Linked DNA regions of Homo sapiens: regions 2 and 3 are each linked to region 1. Evidence: fine-mapped expression QTL. A gene starts in region 1. Each other region holds a variant in brackets. All regions are shown on one strand. Distances are between the middles of the regions.

Evidence for each region. PIP is the estimated chance that this variant, and not a neighbour inherited with it, causes the effect.
Region 2: its variant is fine-mapped to the expression of CRK in whole blood (TOPMed, PIP above 0.99).
Region 3: its variant is fine-mapped to the expression of CRK in whole blood (TOPMed, PIP 0.93).

Annotation. Positions count from the first base shown.
Region 1 is chr17:1,454,711-1,457,210 of GRCh38, forward strand. It overlaps CRK (CRK proto-oncogene, adaptor protein), which reads right to left and starts at 1,522. Exons shown (of 3, transcript NM_016823.4): 1 at 1,167-1,522. The coding sequence starts at 1,407. RefSeq lists an enhancer at 691-1,676 and silencers at 941-1,070, 1,181-1,240, 1,331-1,830.
Region 2 is chr17:1,420,201-1,423,049 of GRCh38, forward strand. CRK (CRK proto-oncogene, adaptor protein) reads right to left here. Exons shown (of 3, transcript NM_016823.4): 3 at 493-2,849. Among named protein-coding and RNA genes, the nearest start is that of CRK-AS1, 3.0 kb to the right of the region's middle. The variant T/C (reference allele first, on the strand shown) is at 1,383.
Region 3 is chr17:1,430,078-1,432,926 of GRCh38, forward strand. All of the region lies in intron 2 of CRK (CRK proto-oncogene, adaptor protein), which reads right to left. Among named protein-coding and RNA genes, the nearest start is that of CRK-AS1, 6.9 kb to the left of the region's middle. RefSeq lists enhancers at 1,973-2,473, 2,474-2,849. The variant C/G (reference allele first, on the strand shown) is at 1,214.

The DNA of each region.
Region 1 (2,500 bases):
CGACTTGGCAACAGCGTGAAGGCACGAGGACTCCTGATGCTGTTACACAGGTACACATACAATGAGAACCCCAGAATTACTTTGTACCTCACAAATCTCCAGTACTAAGGGCATCTATCTATTCCCTTAAAACAGTCCCAAATCAACTCCAACGGCATCGGTAAGACAGTCAATCTCAGGGATCCCTCCCTGGCAAGGAAAACCCAGCGCAGGTAATTTATGTTCTTGGCGTAGAGTCTGTTCCCAATATCCAGGAAGACTCAGCCCGCAGCCCCATCTTACTGAGCAAGGTGACGCCCTGAAGTACACACCGACAATGTTTAAGTCCAAGGAAAATGAAGTTCCAGTCACTTACAGGGAAGGGTCTGTTTCCATTGCCTCACTTCTGGTTTATTTTGTGGAATAAAATGTCTTTCCTCCACTAAACACTTTGAAAACCAGAACTCTCTAACGGCGGACAGTCTTCTGGACGCTTAGATCTCTTGCACATAGCCAGGCATCGCCTTAAACTGGGTTGGGCTGGTCACTGAAGGCTTTCTGCTACCACTATTTCTTCTAGCACTTAGTTCACCACCTTCGTCCTCCACGGGGGAAGAGAACGGTACAAAGATTTTGGAAAAATGCCCAAGAAAGGAAAAAATTGACCGGTTTCCTGAGGGTGTCTCCATCCCTCCCGGCCAGTATGTGGTGACTTCCTACCAAAGGCCACCAGGGGAGCACGGCCAAACCCGGCTCTCCAACACGGCAGGAAACGTTTCCAGCCTAAAAGCCACTTGTAGGATTATCGGATTCATTCTGGGCGCCGCTGCCAAGTGATGCCCCCGCAGTGCCAACATCTCCCTCAGCTCTTTGTCCCCACGTTGCCTTGCCCTGCCCTACCCTTGCGCCTGGCCCGGGAGCCAGCCCCACCCTGGGGCCGAAGCAGTTCCCCTTCCCCGCGGCTGCCCTCCCCAGGCACACCCCGGGGCCTCGGTCCGCGGCTCCTCCTCCCCCACACTCCTGCTCCCCGGGTGAGAGCGAGCCCGAGCAGCCGGCGGGCCCCTGCCACGGTCACCCAGCCCTCTGCCCACGACCCCCGAGGGTCCGCTCTCGAGGACCAGCCAGCCAGGCTGGGAGTTCCGCGGCCCTCACCCCGCCCAGGGCCCGCCGTCCCGTCAGTCCCTCACCGGGCGGAGGCTGGGCGGGCGACGGTGGCACCGGCGGGCGCGGGCCGCTGCTGTTGATGATGTAGTGGGAGACGCGCGAGTTCTCTGAGACGCTGAGCACATAGTCCCCGGGGCTGGTGCTCGAGTCCCGCACCAGGAACACCCCGTGCCGCTGGCCCTGCAGCAGCGCCACCGCCTCCTGCCGACTCAACCTCCCCCAGTACCAGCTACTCCGCTCCTCCGAGTCGAAGTTGCCCGCCATGGCTGCCTCCGCGCCTAAACGCTGGGGTGCCGCCGCCGCGCGCGCCCCTCCGGCCCCCGGCGCCCGCCGCCCAGCGGACCGGCTCCGGTTTCAGCTTCACAGCAGCGCCCGAAATGGCGGCGGCAGCCGCGGGCCTCCCCCTCCGGAAATGACGCGCTCCCTGCCCGAGGGAGGCTGCCGGGAAGGGGCCCGCGGCCCGCCATTGGGAGAAGGGCAAGGCGCCCTCGCGCGCGCACTGCGCATGCGGATTCATGGGCGGTGCCGCCCTTCCCGGGCCCGGGCTGCGGGGGATGGGAGGCGGGGTCTAGGGCCCGAGGGGCGGGGCCTCGCAGCCTCCCGCAGAGACGCGCGCCTGCGCTGCGGACAGAGCGGTGCTTCTCGTCTGGGCCCCGGTTCCTGGACGACCTGGGACTTCTAGGCAGCGACTCCCAGACAGAATTGGAGGAGAAAAGATGCGTGTGGCCCTGGGGCCTGAGTTCTCGGCCAGGCTTCCTGCGATATCAGTCTGTTTCTTTTTTCTTTTTCTTTTTGAGACGGAGTCTTGTTCTGTCGCCCACGCTGGAGTGCAATGGCGCGATCTCGGCTCACTGCTCCCGGGTTCAAGCGATTCTCCTGCGTCAGCCTCCCGAGTAGCTGAGACTACAGGCGTGAGCCACCGCGCCCGGCTGTTTTTTGTATTTTTAGTAGAGACGGGGGTTTCACCATGTCGGCCAGGATGGTCTCAATCTCCTGACCTCAGGTGATCCGCCCGCCTCGGCCTCCCAAAGTGCTGGGATTACAGGCGAGAAACATCGCGCCCGGCCACGTCGGTCCGTTTCTGCTCGTTCCTCTAGCTTCTCCACAGACCAGCTGACGTTCTCATTTTCATTGATTCACCTAGGACATTGTTGTTGACACTCCACTTGCACTGCGGGTGCAAAGGTTATCATGGCTGGGCCCTGCACTCCTCGAACTCACAGACCAGTGAGAGGAACCAGGAAACTGGATGACAAAAGGATGACAAATGCTGACAAACGCTATCATGGGAAACGGACATGAACACAGAGCAGAGCCCCCACAGCCAGTCTATGGAGTAATCCAGGAGGGCTTCCCA
Region 2 (2,849 bases), 34 kb before region 1:
CAAGGTGCTGGGATTACAGGCATGAGCCACCACACCCGGCCTAATCCCATCTTTAATAAGCACCCACTGAGCTTGTATAATTGTTTATCTAATTATATGACTGCAGGCTGCTGAAGGCACATACCTCCTATCCCCTAAGCATAAAGATTTACCTCTCGCTGGGTGCGGTGGTGGCTGAAGCCTGTAATCCCAGCACTTTAGGAGGCGGAGGCAGGCGGATCACCCGAGGTCAGGAATTTGAGACCAGCCTGGCTAACATGGTGAAACCCCATTTCTACTAAAAATACAGTAAATTAGCTGGGCGTGGTGGTGCATGCCTGTAACCCCAGCTACTCGGGAGGCAGAGGTAGGAGAATTGCTTGAACGTGGGAGGCGGAAGTTGCAGTGAGCCGAGATCGCATCACTGCACCCCAGCTTAGGTCACAAGAGCGAAACTCTGTCTCAAAAAAAAAAAAAGATTTAGTTCTTTTGTGAAAAATATTCAAAGATTACTTTTTTGCAAAAGATCACCAAGCCAAACATTTGGCCATATTTTTATTTACTACATATACTATAAACATATACAATACATGCTACCAAAAAAAATTTTTTTTTAAATTTAACTGTCAAGAAAGTGTATAGTGTTATAATACAATGGCACATGTTTATATTTTATTTCAAATTGGTTTGCTTATCACCTATTTCAAACCATTAACAGTGAAATGTTACTTGTGGATAATTAAAAATTATCTATTTGCATTATTAACAATAAACAATTCCAACAAATTAATAAGAATTAACCATGTCAAATATTAGTATTCAAAAAATGGGATTTGCAGAAATGATTATATAAAATATAGCAGCCAATTTCAGTTTACTTTGCCAATAGGATTTCAGCATTTGCTTTTTTTTGGAAGACACTTATAAGACATCCTTTGATTTCTTGAGGGGCATTAACTGCCACACTCAACAGTCAAATCCAGCCCAGTGGTTCATGAACGGCCCTGGATCACTGATCACTGAGGAATCCTTAGGACTTGAGTAGCGCTGCCTGTTCCACTGATATTACATATGATGAAAAGAGACATTACAAGCCAATATCAAAGTCAAAGGAAAAGAAAATAGGAACATTCAAATCAGTTGTGACAAGGTTTTTCTACAAGTATTTTTGATGCCATACTTTCAGGAAAACAAGATTTAATGTGTGTGTGGACTTTACAGTATCTACGTTCTAACTGAAAATTTAACAAAGCAGTCAGATGGAATTACATGTAGTATTACAAATGTGTTCATTCAACACTAATGAGCACCCACTCTGTGCATAGCACTGGGCTACCATTTTACAAGTTGAGTTTAACGTCTTTATCAAGCATGACCTTAGTGTGAGGTAAAATACATTAAAT[T/C]AGCGTCAACGCGTTAGTCTGCTTGCGGCCATGTACGGAATCCTGGGCCAGCTGGCTTCCCTGTGCCACGTCACCGGTTTCTCAGGTCTCCTCATTCACTCAGACAAATACGTGCACACTGACTGTGTGTCAGACAGTGTGCCGGTCACTCGGACACCACAATCTGGTATAGGTTCAAAGAATGTAAATTTATCATTTTAACCTATGCAGAACAATTAGAAAGGCAGATTATTTTTCCAAAATGAGGTCCAAAGCAAACTATAAGGTGTTTCTATTGGTCATACCACACCAGAGACCGGTAAGTGCCTTTATAGACTGAGAACTAACGTGGAAGTTTCATGCTGTCGTCTAAATAGCCTAGGTCATTTTTGGTCTCATAGGTCTATTTTGTGGAGCACCTGACCCCATATAAATCATTCCATACTTAAATGGGTTTGTAAACTAAACCTGAACATAAACAAAGAGCCAAAAATGAAGGCAGTTTACAATGTAATGTTCTTCAACAGCATTACTCTCCCCATGAGAAATGAATAATACATAAGTAATTCACAATTGGTTCAACATTTTTTTTTCTTTTTTTTTTCCTTTTTTTTTTTTTTGAGACTGAGTCTTGCCCTGTCGCTCAGGCTGGAACGCAGTGGTGCGATCTCGGCTCACTGCAGCCTCCACCTCCCAGGTTGAAGCAATTCTCCTGCCTCAGCCTCCCGAGTAGCTGGGATTACAGGCGTGCACCACCACGCCGGGCTAATTTTTTATATCTTTAGCAGAGATGGGGTTTCACTATGTTGGCCAGGCTGGTCTCGAACTCCTGACCTCATGATCCACCCGCCTCGGCCTCCCAAAGTGCTGGGATTACAGACGTGAGCCACCGCGCCCAGCCGGTTCAACATTTTTTCAAAGCACTAACCCTACCCCAAATTCATGTAATACTAACTTGACTTTTATACAAGTTGCACAGAATGCAGAGGGCAGAATTTGACCCCAAAACCTTCCACAGAATATCAGAGGTGATTGGTCCTTCCACTCTTGAGTAGAACCTAAGAATTCCAAGAGTCTCCTAATAGGATACTGGCCCTCTGGAGAAATGGCCCTGCTGGATCCCATTAGTTAGGACTCTAGTTAGCTGCTGTAGAAGGGTGACCTACTACGACCCTTTTGGGGAAGGCAGAGAGCTGGGAGACTGGCTGTCCACTTAGTGAATCCAACACTGGCTTAAAGCTATGCACTGAATAAAGTGCTCGGTACATCCTGCTTTTCACCTGGAATGAAAATACACACTTATCTTAGGAATTCACCTACTTACAGGTTTGGGGGACAAGAATGTCAAGGGCTAAAAGAATCCCAAGAAAAAGTATGAAGCATTGACTAGGAGGGAACAAATGCTTCTAGTAGTGTTCTTAGAATTCTTAGGATCTGAAATGTCAGAATGAGTCACACGCTGGTCATGCTCCATACAATGAAAGCAAT
Region 3 (2,849 bases), 24 kb before region 1:
TTTGTTGCCCAGGCTGGAGTGCAGTGGCACAATCTCAGCTCACTGCAACCTCCACCTCCCGGGTTCAAGTGATTCTCCTGCCTCAGCCTCCCACGTAGTTGGGATTACAGGCGTGTGCCCCCACGCCTGGCTAATTTTGTCTTTTTCATAGAAATGGAGTTTCAAAATGTTAGTCAGGCTGGTCTCGAATTCCTGACCTCAGGTGAAGAGTTCACCCACCTCGACCTCCCAAAGTGCTGGGATTACAGGCGTGAACCACTGTACCTGGGCTCATTCTGATTATTAGTATTATTTTTTGAGACAGAGTCTCGCTCTGTCGCCCAGGCTGGAGTGCAGTGGCGCGATCTTGGCTCACTGCAAGCTCCGCCTCCCGGGTTCACGCCATTCTCCTGCCTCAGCCTCCCGAGTACCTGGGACTACAGATGCCCGCCACCACGTCCGGCTAATTTTTTGTATTTTTTTTTTTTTTAGTAGAGATGGGATTTCACAGTATTAGCCAGGATGGTCTCCATTTCCTGACCTCGTGATCCGCCCGCCTTGGCCTCCCAAAGTGCTGGGATTACAGGCGTGAGCCACCACACCCAGCCTGATTCTGATTTTTAAACGGATAAAGAAAATTTGTAAGCAATCAATTGGGCTAATTAACCTGACCAACGTGGCTTTGAAGTAAAAATACCTCAAGGAAGACCTTGTTAAAATTAACCCTATGGCCGGGCGCTGTGGCTCATGCCTGTAATCCCAGCACTTTGGGAGGCCGAGGTGGGTGGATCACGAGGTCAGCAGATCGAGACCATCCTGGCTAACACGGTGAAACCCCGTCTCTACTAAAAATACAAAAAAATTAACCGGGCGTGGTAGCAGGCGCCTGTAGTCCCAGCTGCTAGGGAGGCTGAGGCAGGAGAATAGCGTGAACCCTGGAGGCGGAGCTCGCAGTGAGCCGAGATCACGCACTGCACTCCAGCCTGGGCGACAGAGTGAGACTCCGTCTCAAAACAAACAAACAAACAAACAAACAAATTAACCCTTTGTGCTTTTTGGGGCCTTTCTCCTGAAACGTTTAGAGCACATGAAAATGCTCCTGAGGTCCCAAAGGCACTATGATGATATTTAGAGACCAGGTCTTCCTGTGGTGCCACATGTGGCCTTAGGTCTTTAACAGTCTGGAGGAAGGAGTGGCTGCTGACTCTGGCTGGAGGAGGGCAGAGGAAGAAGG[C/G]CGGAGGGGGTGGGGCATTCTAAGAACATTTTGCTCCAGTAAATGCAGTTCTTCCTCCAATTCAGAAACAAAGTCAGAACTGTGCTTCCACCTGTTAATTCACTAAAGCATAATTCCCAAAGATCAGATCAGGGAAGGTGAGGGGTATCATACCGGGGCGGTGGCTCACGCCTGTAATCTCAGCACTTTGGGAGGCAGAGGGGAGTGGGTCACGAGGTCAGGAGATCGAGACCATCCTGGCTAACACAGTGAAACCCCATCTCTACTAAAAATACAAAAGAAAAAAAAAAGAAACTTGGTGTACTAGTTTTTTTTGAGGCAGAGTCTCACTCTGTCGCCTAGCCTGGACTGCAGTAGCGCAATCATAGCTCACTCCAGCCTTGACCTCCCAGGCTGAAGCCATCCTCCCATCTCAGTCACTAGAGTATCTGGGACTACAGGCATGTGCACCACACTTGGCTAATTCTTGTAATGATGGGTTTCACCATGTTGACCAGACTAGGGTGTACTACTTCAAATACAAAGGTGAAACCGAGTGCTTGCCCCAGAACTGTTACAATCTGACAATACAAAGGAATGTACTAATCAGTGAATGTAGTAATAACAGTAGTTCTAACACTACTGATTTCAAAATTCAAGTTATAAATAGGAAAGAAAAATCCTAATATGAATTACCAATGAACAACAAAGACTTCATACAGGACTTGAAGTACTACAAGGTAGTTAACCTTTCTTTCCAAGAGGGAGACCTCACTACAGCAAAGAGACTGATGAGTCTCACCACAGAGGAACTGTTTTACTGTCCAGGCTGGTCCTCAGCCTCCTCATCCTGTAACACATTCTTAGGAGCTTCTTACAGCTCTGTGGGATGGGATTTGAGACTGCACTCTGAATGTTTAAGAATAAAGACAACATAGGCCAGGCGGGGTGGCTCATGCCTATAATCCCAGCACTTTGGGAGGCTGAGGCAGGCGGATCGCTTGAGGCCAGGAGTTTGAGACTAGCCTGGCCAATGTGGCGAAATCCCATCTCTACTAAAAATAAAAAAATTAGCCAGGCGTGGTGGTGGATGCCTGTAATCCCAGCTACCCGGGAGGTTGAGGCACGAGAATCACTTGAACCCAGGAGGCAGAGTGAGATCACGCCACTGTACTCCAGCCTGGGTGACAGAGTGAGACCTTGTCTTAAAAAAAAAAAAAAAAAAAGGCCAGGCGCGGTGGCTCACGCCTGTAATCCCAGCACTTTGGGAGGCGAAGGCAGGTGGATCACGAGGTCAGGAGGTCGAGACCATCCTGGCTAACACGGTGAAACCTCATCTCTACTAAAAATATAAAAAATTAGCCAGGCGTGGTGGCGGGCGCCTGTAGTCCCAGCTACTTGGGGGGCTGAGGCAGGAGAATGGCATGAGCCCAGGAGGCGGAGCTTGCAGTGCGCCGAGATCACGCCACTGCACTCCAGCCTGGGCAACAAAGCGAGACTCCGTCTCAAAAAAAAAAAAAAAAGAAAAGAAGAACAAAGACAATATAAGATTGAGGTATTTAAACAGAGTTTGCTATCAAGTAGAATGGTGGACTTAAGACTATATCCTAAAGAACCACAATCCACAAAACACCTAGAAAAGTTGACTAAAATATAA